Regions from separate parts of the Homo sapiens genome. Here regions 1, 2 and 4 are each linked to region 3. Evidence: fine-mapped expression QTL. A gene starts in region 3. Each other region holds a variant in brackets. All regions are shown on one strand. Distances are from middle to middle. Region 1 has its middle 23 kb from the start of CD200R1L-AS1. Region 2 overlaps CD200R1 (CD200 receptor 1). Region 3 holds the start of CD200R1 (CD200 receptor 1). Region 4 overlaps CD200R1 (CD200 receptor 1).

Evidence for each region. PIP is the estimated chance that this variant, and not a neighbour inherited with it, causes the effect.
Region 1: its variant is fine-mapped to the expression of CD200R1 in nasal epithelium (TOPMed, PIP above 0.99).
Region 2: its variant is fine-mapped to the expression of CD200R1 in lung (TOPMed, PIP 0.94).
Region 4: its variant is fine-mapped to the expression of CD200R1 in whole blood (INTERVAL, PIP 0.98).

Annotation. Positions count from the first base shown.
Region 1 is chr3:112,775,138-112,783,248 of GRCh38, reverse strand. No RefSeq gene overlaps it. Among named protein-coding and RNA genes, the nearest start is that of CD200R1L-AS1, 23 kb to the left of the region's middle. The variant G/A (reference allele first, on the strand shown) is at 3,139.
Region 2 is chr3:112,917,997-112,926,107 of GRCh38, reverse strand. It overlaps CD200R1 (CD200 receptor 1), which reads left to right. Exons shown (of 8, transcript NM_138806.4): 6 at 915-1,023; 7 at 1,573-1,618; 8 at 2,309-4,903. The coding sequence ends at 2,431. Among named protein-coding and RNA genes, the nearest start is that of CD200R1, 53 kb to the left of the region's middle. The variant CTG/G (reference allele first, on the strand shown) is at 4,651.
Region 3 is chr3:112,971,363-112,979,473 of GRCh38, reverse strand. It overlaps CD200R1 (CD200 receptor 1), which reads left to right and starts at 4,371. Exons shown (of 8, transcript NM_138806.4): 1 at 4,371-4,683. The coding sequence starts at 4,617.
Region 4 is chr3:112,932,530-112,940,640 of GRCh38, reverse strand. The region is part of intron 2 of CD200R1 (CD200 receptor 1); the gene reads left to right. Among named protein-coding and RNA genes, the nearest start is that of CD200R1, 39 kb to the left of the region's middle. RefSeq lists an enhancer at 6,834-7,003. The variant G/T (reference allele first, on the strand shown) is at 5,041.

The DNA.
Region 1 (8,111 bases), 200 kb after region 3:
TCCCTTCACACATCCTTCACATTTTAGGTGCCTCAGTCCTGGACTGAATGCTGATGAAGACTCCCACTCAGGTATTGCATCAGGGCAGAAAGGTGTGATGCCTTTCCTTACCCATCATAAGGGTCACCACCAACATTCTTGTAGCAAAAGACAGTTTAACAAGCAAAAAGCATAATACAAATTCTTATGTCACATGGGAACTTTCAGAAATGAAGACCAAAAGACCCAGGGAAAAGTGTCCGTTTTTACACTTAAGTTTGATGAAGAAAGCACAGCTGTGTAGAAACGTGCCTAGGCAAAAAGGTATGATCTAATGTTGATAGACTGAGGGGATAAACCCAGCAAGGGCTGTCTGCTCAGATTCTTTCTGGCCTCTCTCTGTAGCATTCCTTTCCCTGGGGCTGGACCCTCTGGAGTGAGGGTCTTGCAGGATGAAGAGAGAGAGTGACCTTTCTAGTTTTCATAGCTTGCTTTGGGCGAGTGGAGTTCTAGTTTTTATGATCTGCCATGGGGAAGAGGAATTCTGGTTTCTCTGACTCCCTTCAGGGAAGAAAGGGAAGTGGAAGACCAGAGGGCGGGGGAAGGTCAGAGAGACCTTGCTTCTGAGGTCCTTCCAATCTCCTTCAGTTCAAAGTACTTAGCATGCCAAGGCACCATACTTTGCAGTATCATGTTCTAAGCCCCCAAATTGCTGACTGTAGATGAGGAGGGTTTGAATTCCAGCCAATGAGAGAAGGTAAAACTGTTGACATCACTTTATTTTGGTCTACTTATCACTTAGCATTCTGGTTTATTTCTTGCTGATTTTCCCAGGGAGCAAGCCACACGTTGCTAGAATGAGCAGTCATTTTTTGGGAGGACAACACAATCTAATCTTATAAGGAGAAAGGGTATTCCTTTTGAAACCAAAACTTTGACCCTATCTCTTATGGAAACATGACCTTAATAACCTTAATAACAGGACCTACTGGCAGTAAATGGCTCTCTTTGCCATTCTGGAGAGTCAGAATCAGCTTTAGGAGGCCAGAGGGCAGAGATTTATCTGCTTTGTTCATTGCTGTATCCCTTGCATATAAGCACAAAGCAAAAGCTAAATATATATTGGTTGAAATAATAAATTTGTTTATCCTCCAAAGTGTCTATCCTGTCCTGCACCCATGAGAAGAAGGAAATTTTAAATTCATCCTGCAATACATGTGCACACACATACACACATACATACTGTTTGGATCTTTCTTTGCAGGGGTAGAAGGCCAGATGCTTTTAGGTCCAGGCTGTTTTTGGTTCCAAGAGACTACTGGTGAACTGTAGAATAGTACATCATTTGCTTTATGGCTGAAGGTGAGTATATCCAAGGGAGAAGTTGAGGAGGGGAAATCTTGGGGTGAGATGATAGGCTATCTAAATATGTTATCTATCTTAAGGAGCTTGGCAGAAAGGGTGAGTCAGGGTATAGAGCCATTGGGATGGAGCGAGTCAGAGATAAAATAAGAAAATATGTTCTAAGTATAACATGGAAGAGTCAAATTTTGGAATCTCCCAGGCAGGGAGCAGCCATGGCTTTTAGAGGGTGCTCATGACCACAGTGGGTAAGGAGATAGTAAAGACATATATAACCATGTGATTATATATGTATATATATGTAAATGTATGTGTGTGTATATGTATCCACACGTATATAACCACACCAACTTGCTGTCTTTACTCTCTCCTTACCCACTGAGGCCATGAGTACCCTGTAAAAGGGGATAGACTTTACAAAATCTACCAGTCCACAAGATAAGGAATTTGTAATTATTTCTTAAGGTTTGAGTCCATTTGAAGAGTGGTTTGTGTCAAGCAATGAAAAAGCCAAATACGATGTAGTATAAATCAGGATCCAGAGAGGAAAGCTCAGTTCGTGCCAGGTGTCCAATAGAAATAATTTAATACAGGGCACGAGGTACAAAAAGACTGGAAGAGCTGAGAAGCCAAATAGGGCTTCTTAAAGATTAGCAGCTTAAAGATTAGTAACAGCAGGAAGCCACTACCACCCACAGGACTGAAGGGACAAAGAAAGGAGATAGTGTGTACCAGAGCTTGGAAGTCAGAGTCACCTGGAGCTGGATGTGTAACATGTGTAAGATGGCTGCTTGGTGGGAGCTGGGACCATGGAAAAGGGCCCATTGGCATTGGCTGGGATTATGGAGAAGACCATGTCAACACTGGAGATACTGCTGGAAGCAGAGGAAGGGAAGATAAATCCCCTGGCTTCTCCATTCCTCTTATTCCTCAATTTCCTCCTAGTGCTGCCAATGACCATATCTAGCTGGAGGCAGTTGGCAAGGGAGTTTGGAAATTTTATTTATAGGTAAGGGTCCAAAATAAATTTTGGAACAAGCAGGTAAATAACCTGTACAGTGAATTAAATAAAGAGAATTCTCTTGGTCTTTCCCTGAGCACCTGAGGTGGCTGGGACAGCTCCAGCTCTAATGTCCATGCGCAAGGTAGGAAGAAGAGGGAAAGGCTATGCCAATCATTTATGTCTCCATTTACCAGCAAAACTAATTTCTATTTTCCAGAATGTGCCCAGTTGACTTCTATTTAGTTCTCACTGGCCTGGACTGAGCAGCTGAGAAACGGGGAAAAGAATGGTCATAATTGGCTTAGTCCATTTATCCCCATCTGAAGTGGTGCACAATGTTATTATAACCAAAATAAAGGTTTCAGATGGTGAGTAAAAGTGGGAAGTGGAGAGTGAGTAGGTAGCTAAAGTGTCTGCCAAAGAATTAAATGTCTTCTGGACTTTCAATCTTTGCTGACTTACTTTGGACTTTAAAGCTTCTGAGCAGCTTGGTATCCTGGTCCTCACTGAATTTTAACTGTTGGCCCCTCCCTGTTAGATATTTCACTATTTGTTCATAACTTAGTTTGAATCACTAGCACTTGTCCTTAATACTCTGAACTTCCTTCTTTAGTCTATTGTCTCCCAGTTTTGATTACATAAGGACAAATTCAGTATCTACTATGTACCAGGCATTGTTCTAGGAAGGTGAGATACATCAGCGAACAAAACTGGCAAAAAAAATCCTTAACCTCTGTAGAGCTTACATTCTGGTGAACCGAGACAGACAATAAAAAGTAAATAGCATATTAGAA[G/A]GAAGTAAGTGCTATGGAAAAAAACAGAGTAAAGTGGTTGGGATGGGAAGTTTCAGGGTGGAGTGTTCTCAATTTAAAATAGGACACTCAGGGTAGGGCTCTTGGAAGCTGAAGCCTCATCTGACTACTATCTGCATGGTTCTATTTCTCACAGAAAAGGTCAGGCTGGCCTTTCTCATAGTTAGGGAACCTTCCACTTTTCCTGGCTCTAGGGAAAAGCCATGAAAGTTTTCTTGATTCAGTTTTTCTAGCTTTCAAAGAGTAATAATTATGTTATTTGAAGTTAGAATTTATATACTTATTTTGTTCCGGACTGCTGAAAAGAACATGTTAACAGCAAAATCATTCAAGATTTAAGAAAATAAATCTGCTTGCACCAGCAATTTTAAAGTTTGATTAGTTTCCATCAACATATCCCTTATCTAAACATTTCTGAATTAAATAGCTTTTAAAATAGATATGCTACTGTAAAATAAAAATATACTTGAAGAATTTCTAATCATTGACTTCACACTAATTTCATGCTTAACCATGTAATTCTTCTGATTTAAAATTTTGATCTTTTGAACACAGTTTCTTTTTCCCAAGAAGGGGGTGCTATATAAAGATAATTGCTTGGTTGCAAAGACCAAAGTGTTGCTGACCTTTTGCTTGAATATCCATCCCTTTCCTCTTATATTTCACCAGCTTTTAATATATTTCCATCCTTTTCCTCTTATATTTCACCATTAACTCCATCCCTTTCCTCTTATATTTCACCATTAACTCCAAATGAGCCAGGCCTCATCTTTCACCCTATTCCTATCCTAACCAGTAGCCACAATAAGTTCAGAGTGAGATTCCTCAGATACATCCTACCTGCTGTATCCTGAATAAACCAGCTTGACTTGCAGAATTTTAAGCAGGGTAGCCTGAGCTTGTGGGTAATCATTCTTTGAGAAGGTCAGGAGCAATTGTCACTTAAATCCAAAGCCTTACTGTTACCCCAATTTACATTTTCCTCTATTTATGGAATACTACCTCATTTTCATCACTTTCCTAGAACCTATTAGAAATATGTTTTCTTCTATGACCCTAATAGTAACTCAGGAATACTTATATGTTTTGACATAATCTGGAATTTGTGTTTAGAGATTAAAATCTAAGATAATCCAATTCTGTTATATTATTTTAGTGCTGAATTATGTTTTTTAAAATTGTAGACAAAGTCTTCAGTAATCTCTATGCTGATGATTAAAGAAAACATTGCTATTTTCATAGGTCATAGAGAGGATAACTGAGGAATTCATTGGCAAGCTTGTGGGTGTTGCTTTTTACAGTAATTTATTGTGAAATATAGGTGAGTCATTACCATATTACTGCTACAAAACTGCAATAACCTCAAAAAATTTTTATAAAACATTTCAAATTGGGGTAGAAAAAGAACTTCTGAAGAAGAAAAGAGACATATAAATCAAACGTGTCCACGTGTAGTACTATGTGGTGGCGGGGGGATCCTGATATATCTTTAATCCCTCTTGGAATGTATTGAGTGTATAGAATGTAGAATATCTTTGTTTTAGTCTGTGTATTCTTAACATACCACTACCACCTGACTGAGACCAGCGTTTGCTCTAATACTTACTATGCAACCGTAACACTGGCATTGCAGTGATTCATCATATGGAATTGTAGGCAGAGAAAAGCTATTAGCCAGCCCATGCAATAATTGAACCCTTGAAAGAAAGTTTATTGACAGATTACTGTGCCTACTTTGCAAGGCACTGGGGATGCAGAGATGAATAAGCACAGTTTTTATTTTCAAGAAATTTATAGTACAATCCAGGGCAGATATGACTCTTTTTTTCTTTCCAAGCCTGGATGCTCAGTGGACACACTTTTTCACACAGCGATCTAGGAAGCCATCACATTTCCAGCCCCATCTCCATGATCCTCTGGGTTCAGCCATATTATCTTCAGATCCTTGAACCTGTCCTACACTTTAGCCTTTGAGCTATTGAACTTGCCATTCCTTCCTCCAAAATCACTGCCCTGCCCACACCCACAGACCTCTTCTTTGCTTGGTTCACTTCTACTGGTCCTTTGCATCTGGATTTAGCTCTCACTTCCTCTAGGAAGTCTTTTCTGCCCCACTCTGCCTCCCCCTGCCCTCCTAAGTGTTCCCACTTCCCCATCCCAGTATTTATCACATCTTCCTGAAATTGCCTTTTTACTGAATTCTGTCTCTCACTAGGCAATAGTCTCCATGACCATAGGGACAGAGTCTTGTTCACAACTGTATCTCCAGGAAGGATGAGCATGCCTGTTTCATAGTAGACGGTCCATAAATGTTTTTGAGTGAAGAATCTGGCGCAGTTTTTAGAGCTGGGGGTCAAAGTCAGAGACAGATTAGAGGCCAGAGTGATTGGGTCCAGGACTTAGATAGGTGGGCAAGATTGGGTAAACTTCTCTTCTTGGGCCTGTCTATTCTGGGGCAGGGAAAACCTTTGGATGGGTTTAGGGGCCTCACTTGGAGGGCCACAGAGGCTTGAATCCAGCAGGGCATGGTTCCAGAAGGTAGAGAAAAGGACACTCATTAATACCAATTTGACACCAAATTGGAGAGACAAACCCCCAGCAGATGCCCTCCTCTGGATGCCATAGGGTCTAGCTTGAGCCCTGCTGCCTGTACGCAGGAGTGGGAGGAGGAGATGGGGATGGAATATGCTGTAAAGGGAGAAAACATGGGTAAGGGGAAACTGTAACAGAGTTCCTTCTAGACCCAGATCTCAAGCCTTTACTTCTTTTATTCCTTGTTATTTTACTCATCTCAGCACCCCCCACTGCCTGCACACCAGATCCCTGTCCCTAAACCCAGCACCACTGTCACCTTTCAACCTGTCTCTTCCACTCTTCCATCAGATGCTCCTTGTTTAAATCATCCTTGCCTTTGCAACATCAGTCCCTGCCTTCTCTAAGGGGTTCATTGTAAGCATCATTGTTTCTTAGGCTGACCCACTTTCTAACCCTGGTCTTCACAGGACCTTGATCTCTCTCTCTCTTGAGCCAGCTGTTGGCCCAGGCTTCAGGCCCCTCGGATTCCCATCCTGCCACACATCAGACTAATGCTTCAACCGTAGCTTAACCACCCTCCAGCTGAGATGTTTGTATCAGATTTCAACATTTCTTTAATTTTTTTTTTTTTGAGACAGAGTTTTGCTCTTTTTGCCCAGGCTGGAGTGCAATGGTGCCATCTCGGCTCACTGCAACCTCTGCCTCCCCAGTTCAAACAATCATCCTGCCTCAGCCTCCTGAGTAGCTGGGACTACCACCACCACGCCCAGCTAATTTTTTTGTATTTTTAGTAGACGCAGGGCTTCACCATGTTGGCCAGACTGGTCTTGAACTCCTGACCTCGTGATCCGCCCACCCTCACCTCCCAAAGTGCTAGGATTACAGGTGTGAGCCACTGCGCCTGGCCCATTTCTTTAATTTTAATCAATATTTACCTTATGGTATCAATGGCCATGTGGGAAAGTGAGAGTGGTCTCAAGCCTTAGTGAGATCTGAGAACTAAGTGAGGAGCCCTGTCCTTCACTGACTTCTCACTCATCAACAAATATCTGTTGCTAGATGTCAGCTTATTGCTGTACCGAAAAAATTACATGGAATAAAAAGTAATGAAAAATAAACAATATTTTAAATTGGTGATCTATTGCTATGCCAATATAAATCTTTTTTCACTATCTTCTCTAGCATCCAAAAATTTGAATACTTAGCAGACAGGTCTGAGACCAGAGTGTGAAAGCCTAGAGTCCATCAGCATCACGTGATTGTTGCTTCACTAGGCAGGAAGCTGCTTGCTCATCACCTGATTCAGAGTTTCTTTCTCTGCTTCTCATCCCTGGGGGCTACAAACCTTCATATATCCAAGTGTCAATTTCACTTCCTAGCAGCTTCAGCACAATTGGGAGCCAGAGCGTTACCTTTTAGAAGGGGAGGATGACCAAGTAAGAAACAGCTCACCAGTGGGTGAGGCAATGGGTGAATTGCATGGCTTCTGCCTTTGAAGTTTAATGAACTCTTATGAGACAGACATACACAGAGGAAACAAAATTTTACTGACTTGCCTCTCATAAAACGGAGTATGATGTGGATGCCAGACTGGATTTAGATGGTACACTTACATGAGCCTCCGCATCTCTCCCGGAGCTATATTCATCATCCCCAGGGAGCCTGAGACACACATCTCCTGCTTCACCTACCAAAGAATTATCAGATGTCCAAGTTCTTCAGTGACTACTGCTTAGATCTTTTACACTCTCTGGTACTAACAGGCATTGAGCCCAGAGCCCTCCAAGGTAACTGTTGATAGTGCATGGTCTTCCAGAGAAAATGTGGGCTTAATTCTAAAGAATGAGTTAAATAGTGGCATTTCTGGTATTCCAGGCTGTGGAGAGATCTTTGACAATAGAATAATTTTCTGGAATAAGGGACATTCAGTGCCCCTGACCCATCAAGTTGCATCATCATCTTCCAGCTTCTCCAGGGCCTTGAGCCACTGAAGGGCTGTCCTCCCTTCGTGGTTCTCTGCCTTTTGTCCTGGGCTGACATCATCCATCAGTGACAATGCTTCCCAGAGGCAGGGATTTTACCCACAGGGAATGAACTAGAGGTCCACATCCTTCTAGAGTGTGGAGGTCAGAAGCCCCTGGGGAGGCACGTTGAAGCTCTCCTCCCCATTAGGGTGATTCTGATTCCCCCTTGTTTCATAATCCCCACAGGGCTTAGGGCTCTAGAGTGCAGAATAGCACAGACTGCTAAATCAGCCACGTGTCTTAGAGCTGTTTCTCCATCCAACTTGGACAGAAGTCTCTCAGACAGATGATGTCAGTGCAACTGGAGGGGAGATGTTAAAAATCTGTGCTCTCTCTGGCTGCAAAAACCTTTCCCGGAATGCTCAGGACCTGATGGTGGGATTGTAGACTGGGGTA
Region 2 (8,111 bases), 53 kb after region 3:
GAGAAAGATGACTTCAGAATTAGGGTTACTTTTCCAAGTATCTTCCTTACAATTGCCCATTTAGTTGGAGGGGAGAAACACTCTGCTATAACAGAGTGGTAGGAATTCACCACCAATGAATCTTTAAAGCAACAAAACCCTGATATAAGGTGATGTCTTGCTGAAAACTCTGGAGTCTGTATTGAAAAAGCAGTTTTATTTTAATAATTCTCAAACTATTAATGGGGCAGAAGTGTTGAAAATGAAACTACAGATATGAATTTCATGTATTGTGAGACATTATTGAATGATCTATATAGATAGATATGGATATAAATATAGATAACTTTATTTTTAGTAGACATTAATTTTTAGAGCAGTTTTAGGTTCACCGCAAAATTGAGTGGAAAGTACAGAAATTTCCCATATAAGCCCTGCCTTCGCCCATGTCCAACCTCTCCCACCTACACCTGCACCAGAGTGTTACATTTATTAGAACTGTTGAACCTCCATTGATACAACATTACCACCCAAAGTCCATACTTTACATTAGAGTTCATTCTTGGTGTTGTACATTCCATGGGTTTGGACAAATGTGTAATGACATGTATCCACCAGTACAGTATTATATGGAACAGTTTTATTGTCCTACACAATCCTCCTTGCTCTTTCTATTCCTCCCTCCTTCCTCACCACCAGATAATCAATAATTTATTGACTATTCCCCTAGTTTTATCTTTTCCGTAATGTCTTACAATTGGAATCATACAATATGTAACATTTCCAGATTGGCATGTTTCACTTAGTAACATACATTTGAAATTCCTCTATGTCTTTTTATGGTTTGATAGCTCATTTCTTTTTAACATTGAATAATAAGATAGTACATTATTTGGATTGTACCACATTTGAACCATATATTTTTGTGTCTATAGTTCCAGGTGCCAAAAAATCAGCAAAATTATATATTCCATATATCATCCTTACTATTATTATTTTGACCATCGTGGGATTCATTTGGTTGTTGAAAGTCAATGGCTGCAGGTATTGACTAATGAATGTTTTTTTCTTCTTCAGCTTTATTAGGCTAGAAAAGAGTCAGAAATATGGAACTGACCGTATTGGGTATATTAGGATGTTAACATCAAATCTCCCATAATCAAATCTTGAAGGTGTTAGATAGACTTGGACTACTTTGAATGATGAGAGAGACTTTGCTAGGTTGCTTTGGCATAGAAGCATGGAAAATTAGGCCATTTAGGGTAGGATCTTGGGAGAGAAAGTGCATGTTAATTTTCACATTTGGGTAAATAATTACAATTCCTTCATGCACCAAAGAGGAGATGTTACATGCATTCAATTGCATCAAGCTTCTATTGCATAATTTCACTTTTTCAAAATCCGGAATATTCTTAGTTGGGGATATTAACCACGAGCAGTATTCTTCACTTATTTCTAGTAGTTTCTTTCTGATTTATTATGGCTTCTATCAAAATTAAACACAATTGTCAATAGTATACTGTCTTATTTTCCCATTTTCGATCTAAACAATGATGTTTCCTCCATTCACTTCAATTTATTTTATTTTTATAGAAAATATAAATTGAATAAAACAGAATCTACTCCAGTTGTTGAGGAGGTAAGATAAGATAAAAAAGACTAATTGCAAACTTAAGCCAATAGTCTGAAAATCTAGCAACATAATTTGTAGTTTGTATCAATATTAGTGTTTCAGTTGAAAAACTAAAACAGTTCTGACTTGCAGTGCTTATATGTGTGATTACTTTGTTAATTATCTATCAAATACTATTTATACATCATCACTCTGAACCACATTTTCACTTCATGAACTATATCCTAACACATATGATGTTTGGCTCCTTTAGACTGTAATCTTTTGAGGAAATGAATTGGTGTTTCTTGTCACCAATTTGAAAGCATCTCTAATTCCTGACTTTTCCTTTTCAATACTATCATTATTTTTCTCTTACACAAACTTAAAACATATCCTGCTCCTTCATCTCTTATTATAAGTAGCTTACTAAGTCTCCAAAGCTCTCCTTTGGAGTACTCATATCACTTCATTCATCTCCATTCCTACTTGCACAGAGCCATTATCTCCACACAGAGACTTATGTAGTTAACAAATACTTTTTGATAAAATGTTAGAACAAATCCTGCTCTTATGTTTATATAGGCCCAGAAACACAATTATAAGCACTCTTGAGCACCTGTTAGAAATACTAAAGCTATGGGCAACTGTTACAAAAATACAGATAGTCTCTATGATGATTTTTTGAATTGATTTTAACTTTGAGTTCTTTCTTAGGATGAAATGCAGCCCTATGCCAGCTACACAGAGAAGAACAATCCTCTCTATGATACTACAAACAAGGTGAAGGCATCTGAGGCATTACAAAGTGAAGTTGACACAGACCTCCATACTTTATAAGTTGTTGGACTCTAGTACCAAGAAACAACAACAAACGAGATACATTATAATTACTGTCTGATTTTCTTACAGTTCTAGAATGAAGACTTATATTGAAATTAGGTTTTCCAAGGTTCTTAGAAGACATTTTAATGGATTCTCATTCATACCCTTGTATAATTGGAATTTTTGATTCTTAGCTGCTACCAGCTAGTTCTCTGAAGAACTGATGTTATTACAAAGAAAATACATGCCCATGACCAAATATTCAAATTGTGCAGGACAGTAAATAATGAAAACCAAATTTCCTCAAGAAATAACTGAAGAAGGAGCAAGTGTGAACAGTTTCTTGTGTATCCTTTCAGAATATTTTAATGTACATATGACATGTGTATATGCCTATGGTATATGTGTCAATTTATGTGTCCCCTTACATATACATGCACATATCTTTGTCAAGGCACCAGTGGGAACAATACACTGCATTACTGTTCTATACATATGAAAACCTAATAATATAAGTCTTAGAGATCATTTTATATCATGACAAGTAGAGCTACCTCATTCTTTTTAATGGTTATATAAAATTCCATTGTATAGTTATATCATTATTTAATTAAAAACAACCCTAATGATGGATATTTAGATTCTTTTAAGTTTTGTTTATTTCTTTTAAGTTTTGTTTGTGGTATAAACAATACCACATAGAATGTTTCTTGTGCATATATCTCTTTGTTTTTGAGTATATCTGTAGGATAACTTTCTTGAGTGGAATTGTCAGGTCAAAGGGTTTGTGCATTTTACTATTGATATATATGTTAAATTGTGTCAAATATATATGTCAAATTCCCTCCAACATTGTTTAAATGTGCCTTTCCCTAAATTTCTATTTTAATAACTGTACTATTCCTGCTTCTACAGTTGCCACTTTCTCTTTTTAATCAACCAGATTAAATATGATGTGAGATTATAATAAGAATTATACTATTTAATAAAAATGGATTTATATTTTTGGTCATGTTTGTAAGAGAGTGAATGCACGTGTGAGAACATTAGCTTCTTCTGAACTCATTATATCTCCACAGAGGTGTTGATACTTGATGCCTAACAGTTTTGCAGATGTGCTACATTGGAATTGTGTATTTTTATGGTGTACATTCTATTGTGATATATTTATTGAATAATTAATGTCTATTGACCATATAAGTGGCGAAAAATGCACCATAGAGGACATGGGGTATTTATTTACAAACTATGAGCTACATAATAAGCAAGTGGCCATGGGATGGCATGACCCTCCCCTCCATATTTTTGTGGAGCAAAATATTGGCAATGTTTATGTAAATCATTGTTAATATCATGAAATTATTTTTAATTAAAAACATAAGTCTATTTGCTCCATAGCAGAAAAAACATGAGAAGTTTTTTCATCATGATAGAAATTGAAACAAAATATATTCATTCTTCAATCATACCATCTGAGATTTTTAAGACAGCTATTTTGTCTTATAAGTATATTTTTCTCCCTCTAGACATTTCAGTTACTATGGATTTTGTCCTCAAAGGGACTTTTAGTCTATTTTGGATGTAAAGCTAATCTAATGACACTTGGCACATGATATTTTGATCAAGCCATTTTGACTTGACCAAAAAGCAGTGTCCATTAGGTTTCTGCATATAAATATTACCAAGCAATGTTCACAATAGACATCATTACACTGTCCTTGAAATTTATTAATTCTTCATCCAACCCTGGTTGAGCTGAGGCTCATAGTTAGGTTCAAGACTATCTGTTTAAATATTACTGAAAAACAAAGTAAGACAGTACTATGCTTACCTCTTAACTTGATAATGTCAAAACAGGCATGTTAAATGACATCATAGAAAAGACTTCAAGATAATTTATAGAAGTTAAATTATATTGTACAGAAAATAATTGTATGAAAATCTCTACTATGGGGCTGGAACATGGTTGAACATTAGAATGATATAAAAAATTATATATATTCTCCAAATCCACGCTAGACCTGTCAAATTAGAGAATCTAGAGATTAGACCTGGCGTGTCAGCAAGGTCATCCAGGAAGCAGAGGCTGAGACGGAGTTAGGTGTGATTACTTACATAGTCGATTACATTTTACAAATAACATTTTATATGTCTCATTTACTGTGCTTTCTCCCCATCCCATTTTGTATCTTTTCCTTTGCTTTGCTAGATTTGTCAATTTTCTCTCTCTTTCT[CTG/G]TCTCTCTCTCTTTCAATATCTCTAATAATTTGAAAGTAATTCATCATAACTAAATATCTATTGGGGTTATGCTTCACTTACAAACTTCTGAAAACGGCTTTACTGAGATATAATTGATATATTTAAGTGTACAGTTTGTTAAATTTTGCACATATTTAAAATGTGGACTTTGGTAAATGTTGACATAGTTTTACATCTGTGAAACCATCAGCATAATCAAGATAATAAACTTGTCCATCACCCCCCAAAATTTTCTTGTTTCTTTGTGAGCCTATCCCTACAAACTTCTTGTTCCTCCTCATCCCCCGCTCCCCAGGCAACCTCTGATCTGCTTTCTGTAACTATGTATTAGTTAGCATTTTTTAGAATTTTCCATAAATAAAATCATGTAAATATCATCACAATAGACACTCTTTTATTTTTTTGGTTGGACTTTTTTTCTCATTATAATTATTTTGAGATACATCCACATCCACACAATGATACTGCATTCTTTTTATTCCAAATAGTATTTAATTTTATAGCTATACCAGTTTGTTTATCTGTTTGCCTGTTGGTGGACATTTGTGTTGTTTCCAGTTTTGGGTTATTAGAAATAAAGCTGCTATACACATTATTTTGCAAGTATTTTTGTTGACATATATTTTTATTTTTCCTGAGCAAATACTGATGAGTGGATTGGCTAGATCAGATGATATGTAGATGTTTCACTTTTAAAGAACTTGCCAATCTTTGTTTCTTTTCTTTTTTTAATTTTTTTTAAAGTAAACTTTTAATTTCAGATTAGTTTCATTTATTATTATTATACTTTATTTTATTTATTTATTTATTTTTTTTTTTTTAATTATACTTTAAGTTTTAGGGTACATGTGCACATTGTGCAGGTTAGTTACATATGTATACATGTGCCATGCTGGTGCGCTGCACCCACTAACTCGTCATCTAGCATTAGGTATATTAAGTCCTGGGATACATGTGGAGAAGGTGCAGGTTTGTTACATAGGTATACACGTGCCATGGTGGTTTGCTGCACCCATCAACCCATCATCTACATTAGGTGTTTCTCCTAATGCTCTCCCTCCCCTAGCTCCCCACCCACCAAAAGGCCCCAGTGTGTGATGTTCCCCTCCCTGTGCCCATATGTTCTCATTGTTCAACTCCTACTTATGAGTGAGAACATGCGGTGTTTGGTTTTCTGTTCCTGTGTTAGTTTGCTGAGAATGATGGTTTCCAGCTTCATCCATGTCCCTGCAAAGGACATGAACTCATTTTTTATGGCTGCATAGTATTCCATGGTGTATATGTGCTACATTTTCTTTATCCAGTCTATCATTGATAGGCACTTGAGTTGGTTCCAAGTCTTTGCTATTGTGAACAGTGCTGCAATAAACATACGAGCGCATGTGTCTTTAAAGTAGAATGATTTATAATCCTTTGGGTGTATACCCAGTAATGGGATTGCTGGGTCAAATGGTATTTGTAGTTCTAGATCCTTGAGGAATTGCCACACTGTCTTCCACAATGGTTGAACTAATTTACACTCCCACCAACAGTGTAAAAGCATTCCTATTTCTCCACATCCTCTCCAGCACCTGTTGTTTCCTGACTTTAATGATCGCCATTCTAACTGGCGTGAGATGGTATCTCATTGTGGTTTTGATTTGCATTTTTCTGATGACGAGTGACGATGAGCTTTTTTTCATATGTTTGTTGGCAGCATAAATGTCTTCTTTTGAGAAGCATCTGTTCATATCCTTTGCCCACTTTTCGATGGGTTTTTTTTTTCTTGTAAATTTGTTTAAGTTCCTTGTAGATTCTGGATATTAGCCCTTTGTCAGATGAGTAGATTGCAAAAATTTTCTCCCATTCTGTAGGTTGCCTGTTCACCCTTATGATAGTTTCTTTTGCTGTGCAGAAGTTCTTTAGTTGAATTAGATCCCATTTGTCAATTTTGGCTTTTGTTGCCCTTGTTTTTGGTATTCTAGTCATGAAGTCTTTGCCCATGCCTATGTCCTGAATGTTATTGTGTAGGTTTTCTTCTAGGGTTTTATGGTTTTAGGTCTTAGGTTTAAGTCTTTAATCCATCTTGAGTTAATTTTTGTATAAGGTGTAGGAAAGGGGTCCCGTTTCAGTTTTCTGCATATGGCTGGCCAGTTTTCCTAGCACCATTTATTAAATAGGGAATCCTTTCCCCATTGCTTGTTTTTGTCAGGTTTGTCAAAAATCAGATGGTTGTAGATGTGAGGCATTATTTCTGAGGCCTCTGTTCTGTTCCATTGGTCTATATATCTGTTTTAGTACCAGTACCATGCTGTTTTGGTTACTGTAGCCTTATAGTATAGTTTGAATTCAGGTAGCGTGATGACTCCAGCTTTGTTCTTTTTGCTTAGGATTGTCTTCGTTGTATGGGCTCTTTTTTGGTTCCATATGAAATTTAAAGTAGCTTTTTTCCAATTCTGTGAAGAAAGTCAATGGTAGCCTGAGGGAGATAGCATTGAATCTATAAATTACTTTGGGCAGTATGGCCATTTTCATGCTATTGATTCTTCCTATCCATGAGCGTGGAATCTTTTTCCATATGTTTGTGTCCTCTCTTATTTCCTTGAGCAGTCGTTTATAGTTCTCCTTGAAGAGGTCCTTCACATCCCTTGTAAGTTGTATTCCTAGGTATTTTATTCTCTTTGTAGCAATTGTGAATAGGAGTTCACTCATGATTTGGCTCTGTGTTTGTCTATTATTGATGTATAGGAATGCTTGTGATTTTTGCACATTGATTTTGTATCCTAAGACTTTGCTGAAGTTGCTTATCAGCTTAAGGAGATTTTCGGCTGGGACGATGGGAGTTTTCTAAATAGACAATCATGTCATCTGCAAATGGAGACAATTAGACTTCCTCTCTTCCTATTTGAATACGGTTTATTTCTTTCTCTTGCCTGATTGTCCTGGCCCGAACTTCCAATACTATGTTGAATAGGAGTGATGAGAGAGGGCATCCTTGTCTTGTGCTGGTTTTCAAAGGGAATGCTCCCAGCTTTTTCCCATTCAGTATGATATTGGCTGTGGGTTTGTCATAAATAGCTTTTATTATTTTGAGATACGTTCCATTAATACCTAGTTTATTGAGAGTTTTTAGCATGAAGGGGTATTGAATTTTATCAAAGGCCTTTTCTGCATCTATTGAGATAATCATGTGGTTTTTGTCATTGGTTCTGTTTATGTGATGGATTACGTTTATTGATTTGCTTATGTTGAACCAACCTTGCATCCCAGGGATGAAGCTGACTTGATCGTGGTGGATAAGCTTTTTGATGTGCTGCTGCTGGATTCAGTTTGCCAGTATTTTATTGAGGATTTTTAGCACCGATGTTAATCAGGGATATTGGCCTGGAATTTTCATTTTTGTTGTGTCTCTGCCAGGTTTTGGTGTCAGGATGATGCTGGCCTCATAAAATGAGTTA
Region 3 (8,111 bases):
GCATTGATTTCACCAAATTATCTCCAGGGGGCAGCAGAGAGTAATCTTAATGCAAATAGATGATTAGAAACAGCACAGGGTTTGCTTATTTATTTAAACAAAACAGACCAATTTTGAGCAGGTAAGGAAGAAAGAGTGAATTAGTACATAAATAGAGTCAGTAGGGGTTAGGAACCTGGGAGATGTATTGGAGACAAAACAGAGTTACCACCTTCAAAAAAGTAGATAGTAAAGCAGAGACTAATTAGCCACATAGTTTAAGAAGTAGACTTTGGAGTGAGATTTCTTGGGCTTGAATCCTGTTTCTATCACTTATCAGCTGTGTGGCTTTTGACAATTTACATAACCTCTCTGCTTTGAGTTTCCTCAATGGTAAGTGGTATTTACTATATAGGATTGTTGAGATAATTAAATTAGGTAATATTTATAAACTGCTTAGAACAAGATCAGGGTGTTAAGCTTAGGGCTTGACAAATACTTGCTATGGATCTGACCAGTGAGATTTACAGTTGATATTTAGCTAAATATAAAATGTGATTACTAATTTCTCTACTCTGATTTTGCTTATTTTGATACTGCACACATTTGATTTTCAAACATCTATTTCTCAATTTTCCTTTTTGTATAATCTGTAAAATTATAATAAAAAATAATCATTAATTCCAATATGATATATTTTTTCTAACTTTTTAAGAAGACTTTTTATACATTGACGTAGATCAACCATATATTAGGAGTAAAAATTTTCAAGAAAAATCAATATAATAGTAGGTATAAAAATAGAAGTATGCATTTTTTGAGGCTCTTTTAAGTTACTGTTTAGTCTATTTAATGATTGTCCATGGAGGAAGATACAGGATTTCAGATGAGTCTTGAGAGCATGGGTCAATGAAGGTTACAGAGAGGTAAATTGGAAAATAGAAAATGGAATATGCCCAGGAAAGCAGTCTTTTTATGCAACTGTATGTTGAATTATAGCATTTCTGTGGTAATTCATTAGATTCAGATCTGTAGTTATTGTACAAGGGAGCAGAGAGGAAGTAAAGACAAGAGTGGAGTGCTGTAGAGTTTGAGTCCCTTGAAATTCTTTAGACTATTCGGTATTGTTCTTTTTACCTCTGTGAAATTGGCATGTTACCACTTGGCTAGCAGTAGGACAGAGTAGATTGAGGGAATTAGGACTAAGTGTTTCGCTAGCATATTTGTGTGAGCGTGTGTGTGTGTGTTATGTTTGTGTGTGCACACATGCAAGTGTATAGAAGGGTAAGTCAGGCCAGATATCTAAGCCAGAGAGTTCACCAAAAGTAACAGTGACAAGGCAAGTAGTTATTGGCCCATTTTGCAAGAATGCACATCCAGAAAATTCAGCTATGGTAGGAAGGGCAGGCAGGTGCTGAAGTTCTCGGCAGTCAAGACTCAAATATAAGAGGTGAATGAGTCGGCAATGGTACTGGGGAGCAAAGGGTCCCGGGAACGAGAAGTCAGGAATAAAAGTCCATAGAATCTTTGCAGTAAGTATTCAAGAGCCATGCAAATCTTCTACATAATGGGGAGGAATCCCAAGAGGAAGGCTGCAACACTTCATCTTAAATGGTTTCAGTGTGGCTAAGTCTGAATCTGACATTGGAGAGAAAGATATACACCTGATTGGAAGAAGTTTACTTCAACAACATTTATAGTTATTACATCAATTTTCAGTTTATTGCAATTGATAAATTGAGTAAACCAGCCATGCTGGTTTGGGGGCATTATGGCCTAAAGTAGTTCTAATTTACTAAAGTTTCTCTGTCTTTTTGTTTTGGCTACAACATTAACTGGCATTACATTGTCCTGTTTGTTTCTCTTATGCTATGATTCTTAACTGGTATTATTGAAGGAGAATTGGAAAACTGGTAGAGTAAAAGGTTTGGGTTTCTGGTTTGAATGACACCTGTTTCTTGATCCTTTTTCACTCTTTTGCTTTGCTTCCTGGGTCCTGTGCCCAAGGGCCGCAACCAGGGAGAATTTGGGGCCTTTAGATTTTTTAGAGAGGTGTATTTACCAGACACATCTTTCTCTTATTATACTGACTTTCATGGCATGTCTTTAGTGGATGATTATGTTAACAAACTTTTAGTCCCTTTATTGTTTTAAACATTCATGGTCCATAAAAGGTAGAAGGTGGGAGTTGAGAGGTTACAGGCATGTGATTTGGGGGTGGAGAGGATGAGGGACCAGGGAGAGAAACTGTCATCCTGCCAAATCTATTTAGTGAATTTTATGGTTTTTGATACCCATCACTTGATTCTTAAACTGCTGATTGCAGATTGTGGTCTGACCTCAGGTGAGTGCATTGGAGTGTGTCTATGAAAGTTGTTGCCTGAAATTTCAAAGTAGAGGAGTTGAGTGAAAAGAACACAGGGCTACGAAATATAACACATTTTATTCCCAGCCGTGCCAATAAGTTGTTTTGAGGCCACAGGCCATTTAGCCCTTCTGTGGTTTAGTTTTGGCTATGTCATTGAGCAGATATTAAAATAAATGATCTCCAAGAATTTTTGATGACATGAGAAAAAGCTAATGTCAATATAATATAAACAGATACAGACTTGAGTAAGAAACTTTCCCAGTATCACTGGACTAGTAATTGCACAACAGAGACTTAACCCTATGTCTATCTGTATCCTAAGCGAGTGTGAATTTTAACTTTAACTTCTCTCTGCTCACTGCAACCTCTGCCTCCTGGGTTCAAGCGATTCTCATGCCTCAGCCTCCCAAGTAGCTGGGACTACAGATGAGTGCCATCACACCTGGCTAATTTTTTTTTTTTTTTTTAAGTAGAGATGGAGTTTGGAGTTTTGTCATGTTGCCCAGGCTGGTCTCGAACTCCTGAGCTCAGGCAATCTGCCCGCCTCGGCCTCCCAGTGTCCTAAGATTACAGACATGAGCCACTACTCCCGGCCAACTTTCACTTCTATGTAGTGGAAAACCAGAATATTATCTGTATTTTAAATGATGTATTCTCACTAATTTTCCGACACCTGGTGAAACATTAGACAGAAGAGAAGACATTTTTGTTTTGGTCTTCCCATTGTCACAGCTCATACCCTTAAGTGTTCCATGCCCTCAAGGATCTGGTTTCACTGTCTTCATCAAATTAATTAACTGGAAAAAAAAGCTTGAGAAGGGGAAGGGGGGAAATATTTATAATGTTTGGCAAGAAGGAAGATGAAACTGCTAACTGAGAAAAAAAATGCATGCTGTTTAATCTTTTTCCTGTTTGCAATGTTTTCTTCCCCTTCCTGTACAGTTTTGCCTTGGGGCAGAAAATTCTCAGCACATAGAAGATTTTTCCCTCTCTCAGACATAACTTAAAAGCATAGTAACATAGTAACTAGCAACAGTAAGGAAGAGGTTTTTTTGTTGTTGTTGTTGTTTTTTTTTTTTGGTTAGGGGGAGTCTGAATTCCAGATGTGTGGCAACTAAGAGATGGGTGATTATTTGTAATTTGGTTAAAATGATCAGTCTAATTTTCCAAAGGTGAAACTGAATGGCAATAAGTACTGAGTTCTGATAAACAGAATGCCCTCACCCCCAACAAGGTAGATACCTATGTCCGAATTACCGAAACCTGTGAATGTTACCTTGTGTGGCAAAAAGGACTTTGCAGATGTGATTAAATTAAGATCTTGAAATTAGATCATGTTGGATTATTTGGGTGGACCAAAAATAATCACAAGGTCTTTATAAAAGGGAGGCATAAGGGTCACAGTCAGAGAAGATGTGACAGTGGACCAGAGGTCCGAATGATGTAGCTGCAAGCCAAGAAATGCAGGCATTCTCAAATCGCTGGAAAAGGCAGGGAGCAAATTCTGCCCGAGCCTCCAGATGGAGTGCAGCCCTTCCAACACCTTGATTTTAGTCCCCTAAGATCCATTTCAGACTTCTGATCACCAGAACTGTAAGATAATAAATGTTGTGTTGTGTTAAGCCACTGAGTTTGTGGTAATTTCTTACAGTAGCAATAGGAAACTAATACACATATGATGTTTACAGGGTTGTGTGTTGACTCCCATTATAGACAGGAATTTCACACAATAATTTTCAAGAAAACATATTGTATTCCAGACTCAAATACTAAGGCCGTAAAGCTCTTCAACCTGGAGAAAGCCTCTAAAAGTCATCATAATTGGGAAATTTACAAGGATGGGCCAAAGTAGATCAATATTCTGTTTTACTTTTTGGTGCAAGTTTAGACAAATCTGTTTATCTTGGACACGTTCAATGCCTTACTGTAAAGTTTGTCTGTGTACAGCAGAAGTGAGAGGAGAACCAATGAGCTGAGAGATAATTCAATCAATCTGCTTCCTCCGTCTTTGCTTCAGGGCTTCATACAGGAAATCTATTGCTGTGTCAAGTTCCAGAGAAAAGCTTCTGTTCGTCCAAGTTACTAACCAGGCTAAACCACATAGACGTGAAGGAAGGGGCTAGAAGGAAGGGAGTGCCCCACTGTTGATGGGGTAAGAGGATCCTGTACTGAGAAGTTGACCAGAGAGGGTCTCACCATGCGCACAGTTCCTTCTGTACCTGTGTGGAGGAAAAGTACTGAGTGAAGGGCAGAAAAAGAGAAAACAGAAATGCTCTGCCCTTGGAGAACTGCTAACCTAGGGCTACTGTTGATTTTGACTATCTTCTTAGTGGCCGGTAAGTTTGAATTCTCTTTGGGAGAACAGTGAGAAACCTGGTCTCAGCTCTTCCTGAGTTTATTTTTTGTCTTTCTTCTGGGGCAATACAAATCAATTGCAATAATAAATATAGGGGGTTGCTAAATATGGGTTACTCCCATATCTAGTTTACTTTATTATCCTTTTTTCCGGTGTCTTGCTTGTTGTACTTTGTATCCTACTACAATATACAGATCTCTATAATTTGTCTTACTGTCCATTTCCTTATTTCCTCCTGTTTTTTGAACAAGGCAGGATAAATCAAATACATACTAGCAGCAATCAAAGTCAGTTAGGTTCTCTTTATCTTATTCTCTTCCCCAACCCCCTTTTTTGAGACAGGGTCTTGCTCTGTTGCCCAGGCTGGAGTGCAGTGGTGCAATCGTAGCTCACTGCAGCCTGTAACTCCAGGTCTCAAGCAGTCCTCCCACTCAGCCTCCTGAGTGTCTAGGACTACAGATATGCGCCACTATGCTTGGCTAATTTTTAAAATTTTTGGTAGAGATAGAGTCTTGCTATATTGTCCATGCTGGTCTTGAGCTCCTGTCTTCAAGCAATTCTCCCACCTCAGACTCCCAAAGCATTGGGATTACAGGCATGAGCCACTGCACCCAGCCTCTTCTCTCTTAATTTTTTTTTTTAAGATAAGAACGCTAACTCATTTAGGTCCACATTGCCAGTGGCATAGATTAGGACAGTTTATTGCTTTCTGTCACTTTCGATGATTAGGCACTTCAAAAATATAATATGCCTACAGTTACAGTGGTGCGTCTGTGATGTATGTCTGTATTTATCTTCAAGATGTGTGGGCTGTAAGAGACACTACGAGTTAGAGAACAGACTCTTCAACATCTAGGTTCCTATAGAAGTTATAGAGAACTTGGGCCACTGTGGGGGTGTCCTGGTTTCACTGTAGAAGGTTGGTAGGAGTTGGTGTGGGAGGGAGTTTTCAGGTTTCACTTTTGGTAGACAGAGCAGCTGCAAGGGAAGAGTGTAGTTGGTTTTAAATGTTATAATTTGATAATTGAAAGAAGAAAAGGTATTTTTCCTCATTTCTGAATGACTTTAAAATGCTGCTTATCTTCCACAAAAAATCTTCTTTCCACATGTTAATCTTACTAGTGAACACATGCAAAATAACTACACTCTTTGACTGCACCTTTCTATTGAGAATTTTCACATGCTTTTTTCCCTTTGATCTGCACAGCAACCCAGTGAAGTAGACATGGAAGACACCTCTCCATTTTACAAAGGTAGAAATGGAGGCGTAGAGAGGTGAAATGATTTGGCCAAGGTTAGATATGACTAGTATGTGCCAGAATCACAATCAGTAATGATATACATCAGTAAGCACCACTAAACATTTGAGTGGGCAATTTTCCTCATTATTTAACCATTGTGCTTTTCACTGAAGAGCATCAGTGAAAAAAGTCAAGCCAATACTTAGTTTTAGCCTTAATAGACTGTTACTCACCTAAAAAGTCAAGTGATCTGAATCTTTCAGTAGTTCAGATCTTGTTGTAGAAAGCTCTTATAGCAACTTGTGTAGGACCCAGCTTGGCTGGGGCAGCCAGATAGGCAAGGAGCTGTTTATGTCAAATTGCACTGTTACTCCTGGGAAAAGGAAAAAAAATGATTAAAACATAATTTGTAATTTTCAATTTTAAAGGTTGAAAGGTTTAAATTTTAAAACTATTTCTGAACACAACTAGGAAAGACTACATATAGCAGATCTATGAAGTCTATGCTTATGTTATTGTAAAGTTATTAAATGTTTAAAATCAGGATTTAAAAAAGCATATTACTTTACATGTAGTGATTTGGTGTGATAGGTTAACCATGACATGATTTAGAATAATGAGAAGCATACCACTTGGGGAAATATGACTTTATGTCTTTATTGCTAAAACTGCTATGTTATTAATACTGCCAAACAGAAAGAACTCGCTTTGTACAAGGTAAATTCACAAAGGAACAAGGGAGCTAATGACTTAAATGTAAAACATAGTATTCATTTGGTTTCCCTATTTTCTTTTTGTCTACTTATTTGCTTATAACTTCAAGCAGCTTGGCAGTTAGTAAACAAGATTTATCCAGAAAAAACCTAAGGGGAAAAATAAAAACAACCTAAATTGTGTACATCAGAGCTATATTCCCAGCCTTGTACCTGGTCCCCTTCCCGGACACTCCCCGTACCCTGTGCCACTTCTTCCTCCTTTTTTTTAGCCCTATTGTCTTCTAGATTTTTGTGTGTGTGTTCAAATTATATTTTGGTGTTCCAATTAAAATTATTCCATCTTTTATAAAAGTTACTGATTTTGTGATTATGAGTTACTAAAAAGGAACCCTTCACTTCTTTCCTTCTTTGGGCTAATTTTTATTCATTTATTGTTGTCTTCCACTAGAGGACAGGCAGTAACAAGAAGAGGAGATAAAAATCAAGACAGGGCTCTAAGGTAGCTTTGGCAGATTTGCAAACAGTGGAAAAAGATTCAAAACAATTGTGCAAAAGAAGGGTTTTGTCCTTATTAATAACTTTAGTCCTATCTTCCTTTTCTAGTTTGCATATTTGTGAATTTACATGTTATAATAATTTATAGGTGTGTTTTTCTCTAAATGTTCATGCTTAAGCAATTAATAAATTAATTAAAAGTCCTTATTAATGTCTGTGTGTGTGTGTAGAATAGTGCCTAAAAGTTATTAGTAATCTAAATTAGAAAGACAAAGGTAAGATGAAACAATTGGTGAACATTTAAAATCAGTAAATCTTGAAATTGTATATGAAACTAGTACAAATCTAAAGGAGGGAGAAATTACAGTGGGTTGGAGTTGTGGAGGATTTTATGGAGATGGGTCTTGAGCTAGGCTTTGAATGACAGGTTTGGATAAATGGGGAAATGCAGAGAAAGGAATTGGAAGGATGGGATGTGTAGCATGTGCAAATGCAAGGTGCTTCAGAGAGAGAAAGAGCTGTAGCTTGCAGGAACAGAGGTTGTGTGTTAAATAATAGTAGGAAATAAGGCTGGATTTTGGGGGTCCTTAATAGCTAAATTAAAGAACCTGGGTATTAGTCAGTAGACAATGAGGAACCACCTGTTCTTTGGTGAACAGGAAAATTTATAATTAAGTAGGATTTTTTGGAGAATAATGTGGTAACAGTGTCCCATTGAGTGGCGGTGGCACTAGGTAAAATATTTATTTTGAAACATGAGTCAAGAGCTTCTGCCCTGGGGTTCTCATTTGAAAAAAGTTCTGTGATGCCGCTGAGGTATATATGTGACTGAGAAGGGAGTTTCGTTGTGGAGGAAGATATTAAATTCAGTATAGGAAGGGAGGACAAGTAGGAGGAAAATTCCTACAGATACTTGGAAATACAGTCAGCCCTCTGTATTGCATCCCTGGATTCAA
Region 4 (8,111 bases), 39 kb after region 3:
TTTTGATAATAGCCATTCTAACTGGGGTGAATGATATCTCCTTGTGATTTTAATTGACATTTCCTTGATGATTAGTGATGTTGAGCACTTTTTCATGTATTTGTTAACCATATGTATGTCTTCTGTTCAGAAATATCTGTATCAATTACCCATTTTTAAGTTAGTTTTTCTGTTATTGTGGAGATATTTGAATTCCTTGTATATCTGGATATTACTCTTTTGTTGGATGAATATTTTACAAATATTTTATCCCATTCTGTAAGTTTATTCATTCTGTTTATTGTTTTGCTGTGCAGAAGGTTTTTAGTTTTATATAATCCCATGTGTTTATTTTTGCTTTAGTTACCTATGCTATTGAGGTCTTATTCTTAAAATTATTTCTCAGATCAATGTCCTGAAGTATTTCATCGGTGTTTTCTTCTAGCAGTTTTATAGTTTCTGGTCTTATATTTAGGTCTTCAATGAATTTTGAGTTGATTTTTGTATGGGGTGAGAGGCAGGAGGTCTAGTTTCATTCTTCTGCATATGAATATTCAGTTTACCCAGCGCCATTTATTAAAGAAGGTGTCCTTTCCCAAATGTATGTTCTTGACATCTTTGTCAAAGCAGTTGACTGTATATATGTGGACTAATTTCTGGGTTCTCTATGCTGTTCCATTTTTCTATGTGTCGGTTTTTATGCCAGTACCATGCTGTTTTGATTAGTACAGCTTTATGGTATATTTTGAAGTCTGTTAGTGTGATGCCGCAGCTTGTTTTTTTTTTTTTTTTGGTTTGTTTGTTTTTTGCTCAGTATGGGCTTTGGCTGTTTCGGGTCTTTTGTGGTTCCATGTAAATTTCAGGATTTTTTTTCTATTTTTGTTAAATGAAATGACACTTCATTGGTATCTTGATAGTAATTACATTTATTCTGTAGACTACTTTGGGTAGTATGGGCATTTTAACAATATTAGTTATTCTAGTCCATGAATATGGGATGTCTTTCTATTTTTTGTGTCTTCTTAAATTTCTTTCTGCAGTGTTGTATGGCTTTACTTGCAGAGATCTTTCATCTCCTTGGTTAAATTCATTCGTAGATATTTTATTCATTCATTTATATATTTTTGTAGCTATTGTAAATGGGATTGCTTTCATGATTTCCTTTTCATCTGGTTTGTTGTTTGTGTATAGAAATGCTACTAAGTTTTGTCTATTGATTTTGTATGCTGCAACTTTATTGAATTTGTTTATCAGTGTTAACAGTTTTTTGGTGCAGTCTTTAGGGTTTCTCTATATAAGATAATTTTATCTGGAAACATGGACAATTTGACTTCCTCCTTTCTAAATTGGATGTACTTTACTTATTTATTTTTCTTGCCTAATTTCTCTGGGCCAGACTTCCAGTACTATCTTGAATAACAAGGGTGAGAGTAGGCACTTTTTCTTCTAATTCTTCTTCTAATTCTTAAAAGCTGAAAGCTTTTCCCCATTTAGTATAATATTAGCTACATGGCCTATAGATGGCCTTTATTGTGTTGAAGTACTTTCTTCTGTACCTAATTTATTGAAAGTTTTTAGTGATGAAGGGATGTTGAATTTTATAAAATGCTTTTTCTGATCATATGATATTAAAATAATCACCTAGTTTTTGTTCTTCATTTTGTTGATGCAATGTATCACAAATATCGATTTGCATATGTTGAACCATCCTTGCATATCTGAGGTGAATCTCACTTGATTATGGTGCCTGATGTTTTTGATGTTCTGTTGAATTCATTTGCTAGTATTTTATATATATGTTTATTAGTAGTATTGGCTTGTGCTTTTCTTTTTTGCTGTGTCTTATCTGGTTTTTGTATCACAATCATGCTGGGCTTGTCAAATGAGTTTTGACATTCGATGACATTCAAATGAGTTTTACATTCAATTTTTTGGAATAGTTTGAAGTATTTCATCTGTGTATCAAGGACTGGTATTAGTTCTTTAAAAGTTTGGTAGAATTCAGCTGTGAAGCCATTTGTTCCTGGACTTTTCTTTGTTGGGAGACTTTTCATTACTAATTCAATCTCATTACTCATTATTGGACTGAGGTTTTCCATTTCTTGTTGGTTTAAAGTTGTTAGGTTGTCTGTATCCGGGAATTTTTCAGTTTTCTCTAATCTTTTGAATTTATTCATGTGTAGTTGTTCATAATAGTTTCTAATGGTCTTTTGTATTTATGTAGTCTCTGTTATTATGTCTCCTTTTTGTTTCTGATTTTATTAATTTGGTTTTTTCTCTTTTTTTCTTTATTCATCTAGCTAATGGCTTGTCAATTATGTTAATCTTTTTACAAACCCACAGCTCATATCATACTGAATGGGCAAAAACTAGAAGCATTCCCCTTGAAAACTGGCACAAGACAAGGATGCCCTCTCTCACCACTTCTATTTAACATGGTATTGGAAGTTGTGGCCAGGGTAATCATGCAAGAGAAAGAAACAAAGAAAATTCAAATAGGAGGAGAGGAACTCAAGTTATCTTTGTTTGCAGATAACATGATTCTATATCTAGAAAACCCCATCATCTCAGCCCAAAAGCTTCTTAAGCTGATAAGTAACTTCTGCAAAGTTTCAGGATCCAAAATCATTGTGCAAAAATTGCTAGTATTCCTATACACCAACAACAGACAAGACAAGAGCCAAATCATAAATGAACGCCCATTCACAATTGCCACAAAAGAATAAAATACCTAGGAAAACAACTAACAAGGGAAGTGAAGGACCTCTTTAAGAAAAACTATAAACTGCTGCTCAAAGAAATCAGAGATGACACAAACAAATGGAAAAACAGTCCATGCTCATGGATAGGAAGAATCAATATTGTGAAAATGACCATACTGCCCAAAATAGTTTATAGATTCAGTGCTATTCCCATTAAGCTACAATTGACATTGTTCACAGAATTAGAAAAAACAGTTTTAAAATTCATATGGAACCAAAACATAACCCAAATAGCAAAGGCAATTCTCAGCAAAAAGAACAAAGCTGGAAGCATCATGCTACCTGACTTCAAACTATACTATAGGGCTACAGTAATCAAAACAGCATGGTAGTTGTACGAGAACAGACACATAGACCAATGGAACAGAATAGAGAACCCAGAAATAACACCGCACACCTACAACTATCTTATCTTTGACAAACCTGACAGAAACAAGCAATGGGGAAAGGATTCCCTATTTAATAAATGGTGCTGGGACAGCTGGCTAGCCATATGAAGAAAATTGAAAGTGGACCCCTTCTGATATGGTTTGGCTGTGTCCCCACCCAAATCTCATCTTGAAATGTAGTTTCTATAATCTCCATGTGTCATGGGAGGGACCTGCTGGGAGGTAATTTAATCATGGGGGGCAGTTACTCTCATGCTGTTCTCATGATAGTGAGTGAATTCTCATGAGATTTGACGGTTTTATAAGGGGCTTTTCCTCCTTTTGCTTGGCACTTCTCCATGCTGCTGCCATGTGAAAAAGGACATGTCTGCTTCCCCTTCTGTCGTGATTGTAAATTTTCTGAGGCCTCCCAAGCCATGCTGAACTATGAGTCAATTAAACCTCTTTCTTTTATAAATTATCCAGTCTTGGGTATGTCTTTATTAGCAGCATGAGAGCAGAGTAAAACACCTTCCTTACATCATGTACAAAAATCAACTCAAGATGGATTAAAGACTTAAACGTAAAACCCCAAACTCTAAAAACCCTAGAAGAAAATCAAGACAATATCATTCAGGACATAGGCTCAGGCAAAGATTTCATGATTTCATGACAAAGATGCCAAAAGCAACTTCAACAAAAACAAAAATTGACAAATGGGATCTGATTAAACTAAAGAGCTTCTGCACAGCCAAAGAAACTATCAACAGAGTAAACAGACAACCTACAGAATGGGAGAAAAGTTTTATAATCTATTCATCTAACAAAGGCCTAATGTCCAGCATCTACAAGGAACTTAAACAAATGTATAAGAAAAAAAGAACCCCATTAAAAAGTGGGTAAGGAACATGAATAGATAATTCTCAAAAGAAGACATACATGCAACCAAGAAACATATGAAAAAAAGCTCAACATCACTGATCATTAGAGAAATGCAAATCAAAACTACAATGAGATACTATCTCACACCAGTCAGAATGGTGATTACTAAAAAGTCCAGAAACAACAGATGCTAGCGAGGTTATGGAGAAAAAGGAACACTTTTACACTGTTGGTGGGAGTGTAAATTAGTGCAACCATTGTGGAAGACAATGTGGTGATTCATCAAAGACATAGAGGCAGAAATACTGTTTGACTCGGCAATCTGATTACTGGGTATATACCCAAAGGAATATAAATAATTCCATTTTAAGGATACATGCACGTGTATGTTCATTGCAGCACTATTCACAATAGCAAAGACATGAAGTCAACCTAAATGCCCATCAGTGATAGACTGAATAAAGAAAATGTGGTACATATATACCATGAAATATTATGCAGCCATGTATAGATGAGTTCATGTCCTTTGCAGGGACATGGATGCAGGTGGAGGTGATTAGATTATCCTCAGCAAACTAATGCAGAAACAGAAAACCAAACAGTGCATTTTCTCACTTATAAGTGGGAGCTGAATGATAAGAACACATGGACATATGGAGGGTGGAAACACACACTGGAGCCTGTCAGAGGGTGGGGAGTGGGAGGAGGGAGAGCATCAGAAAGAATAGCTGATGGATGCTGGGCTTAATACCTCGGTGATGGAATGATCTGTGCAGCAAATCACCATGGCATACATTTACCTAATAAACCTGCACATCCTACCTATATACCCCTGAAGTTAAAATATTGCAAACAGAAAAAACAAAACTTTTTTGTTGTTGGTTTTTTGCATTTCTTTTTAGGTTCAGTTTCATTGAGTTCTGCTCTGATCTTTATTCCTCCTACTAATTTTGGGTTCAGTTTATTCCTGGTTTTCTTCCTTAATATGTGCTGTTAGGATGTTAATTTGAAATATTACTACTTTTTTGATGTAGGGATTTATTGCTATG[G/T]ATTTGCCTCTTAATGCTGCTTTTGCTGTATCCCTTAGGTTTTGGTATTTTGTGTTTCTATTTTCATTTGTTTCAAGAAATTCTTAAACTTCTTAATTTCTTTCTTTACTCATTTGTCATTCAGGAACATGCTGTTTAACTTTCATGTATTTGTATAGTTTCAAATGTTCCTCTTGTTATTGATTTCTAATTTTATTCCATTGTGGTCACATAAGATGATATGATTGTAATTTTTAAAAATTATTTGAGACTTGTTTTGTGACCTAACATATTGTCAATTCTGGAGAATGTTCCATGTGCTGGTGAAAATAATGTGTATTTTGCAGCTGTTATATAAAATGTTCTGTAAAGGTCTGTTAGGTCTGTTTGATTTATGGTGTGGTTTAGATCCAATGTTTCTTGATTTTCTGTCTAGATCATCTGCCTAATGCTGAAAGTAGGGTGTTGAAGTCCCCACCTATTATTGCTTTGAGGTTTATCTCTCCCTTTAGCTTTAATAATATTAGCTTTATATATCTGGGTGCTCCAACATTGGGTCCATATATATTTCCAATTGTTATGTCGTCTTGCTGAATAAATTCCTTTATTTTTACATAATGTTCTTTTTTATATAGCCTTTGTCTTAAAGTCTGTTTTATCTAATGTAAGTATAGCTACTCCTGCTTGTATTTGGATTCTGTTTGCATGTCTTTTTTCCACTCCACTTTCAGTTTATGTGTGTCTTTACAGGTGAGATGAGTTTCCTGTAGGTGGCATATAGTTGGTTTTTTGAGATGGAGTTTCGCTCTTGTCACCCAGGCTGGAGTGCAATGGCATGATCTTGGTTCACTGCAACCTCTGCTTCCCCGGTTCAAGCAATTCTCCTGCCTCAGCCTCCTGAGTAGCTGGGATTACAGGTGCCCGCCACCATGTCCAGCTAATTTTTGTATTTTTAGTAGGGATGGGGTTTCATCATGTTGGCCGGGCTAGTCTCAAACTCTTGACTTCAGGTAATGCACCCTCCTTGGCCTCCCAAAGTGCTAGGATTACAGGCGTGAGCCACCATGCCCAGCTGGGTCTTATATTTTTAAATCCACTTGGCCAGTCTATATCTTTTAATTGGGAAATTGAATCCATTTACATTCAAGATTATTTGATAGATGAGAACTTACATCTGTCATTTTATTGATTTTTTTTTTCTGCTTGGTGACAGTCTTGCCTTTATTTCTGAAGGATAGTTTTTCTGGATATAATATTCACTGACAGTTATTTTCTTTCAGTACTTTGAATGTATCACTCCATTTTCTCTTGGCCCATAAGGTTTCTGATGAGAAATCTGCTATCAGTATAAGGGGGATTCCCTTATATTTGGCTTGATGCTTTTCTCTTGCGTGTTTTTATCATTCTTCCTTTGTCTTTGCCTTTTGATAATTTGACTATAACATTCCTTAGAGAGGATGTATTTGGGTTAAATCTATTTGGGAAATTTTGAACTTCTTGGATCTGAATCTCTCTCTCTCTCCCAAAACTTGGAAAGTTTTCTGCTATTATTTTATTAAATATGTTTTCTGTGCCTTTTTCTTTCTTTTCTCCTTCCAGAATTTTTATAATGTGAATGTTTTTTGCTTACTGATGTCTCCTAAATCCTGTAAACTTTATTTTTTTAAAATTCTTTTTCTTTTTGTTTTTAAAATCCTCATGTATTATTTCAAAAGACTTGTCTTCAAGTTCAGAAATCCTTTCCTCTACGTTTTCTATGCTGTTGTTGAAAAATCGTATTTTTTATTTCATTCATTGACTTCTTCAGCTCTAAAATCTCTTTTTTTATGATAGCTATCTTTTTGTTGAATTTTTCATTTAAATCACAAATTGTTTTCCTGATTTTATTGAATTGTTTATCTGTATTCTCTTTTATCTCATTGAGTTTCCTTAAGATTATTATTTTGAATTCTTCTTCTGGCATTTCATATATTGCCTTATAATTGGTTATGTTACTGGAGAATTACTGGGTTGATTTGGGGGGTCTATCATATTTTCTTGCTTTTTCATGTTTGATGTGTTTCTATGTTGATACCTACATATCTGGTGCAATTGTCGCCTCTTCTAATTTTATGGTGTAGGCTTCTTAAGAAAAAGCTTATTTATATGTAATCCATTCTAGTGATGTTTGCAAGTGTCCCTATGACCTAGGTGGTGAGTTTGTGGCAGCAGTGGCACAGCTTTGCTGGGAGTTGGTTTGCCAGCCTGCTTTTCAGGTTATGGGTGCTTGTGTGCACATGGTGGGTTACTCAACTTGGCATCTGGCTTGCTGGGTTTGGGACTATGGGGCTCTTACTCTGGCCCTGGGCACAAGCACATGGTTGTTTGGCTATCCTCAGGGCATGTCTGCTAGGGGTGGACCCACTGGGCTGTTTCTTAGGTTCTGGAGTGGGTGGGCAGCCACTCGGCCAGTCTGGGGGCATGTCTGCTGAGAGTGGGCCCACCAGATTATTTCTTAGGCCCTGGGTACAGGTCCCCACCTGCTCAGCTGGTCTGTAGGTATGTCCACCAGGGGCATGCCTGCTGTGCTGTTTCTCAGTTCCTGGGGGTGAATGCACAATCTGTCAGTCTAGGGTTGTTCACAGTAGGGGCCCGCTGGCTGTTTCTCAGGCCCAGGACATAATCATGCAGACACTCAGCTGGCCTGGCTGAGTTTCCACTAGTGGTGGATCCACTGGGTTGTTTCTTAGGCTCTGGTTACAGGCACGGGGCCACTTGGTAGGCCTGGGGTTATATTTGCCAACAGTGAGCTTGTGGGGCTGTTTCTCAGCCGTGGATGTGACTGCTGGGCTGGCCTGGGGGGGATGTCCACTGGGAGTGGATCTGCCCTGCTGTTTCTCAGGCCCCAGTTGTGGGTATGGAACTGATATGTAGGTCTGGGGATGTGTCCTCTGGGAGCGACACCCTTGACAGTTTCCCAGATCCTGAGTGTTGGTGTGGGCTGCTGATTAGTCATGGGGGTGTATCTGCCACATGGAGGGCTCACAGGGCTATTTCTCAGGCCTTGAGTGAGGGCATGGGGCTGCTGGGGAGGCCTGGGGACATGTCTGTGG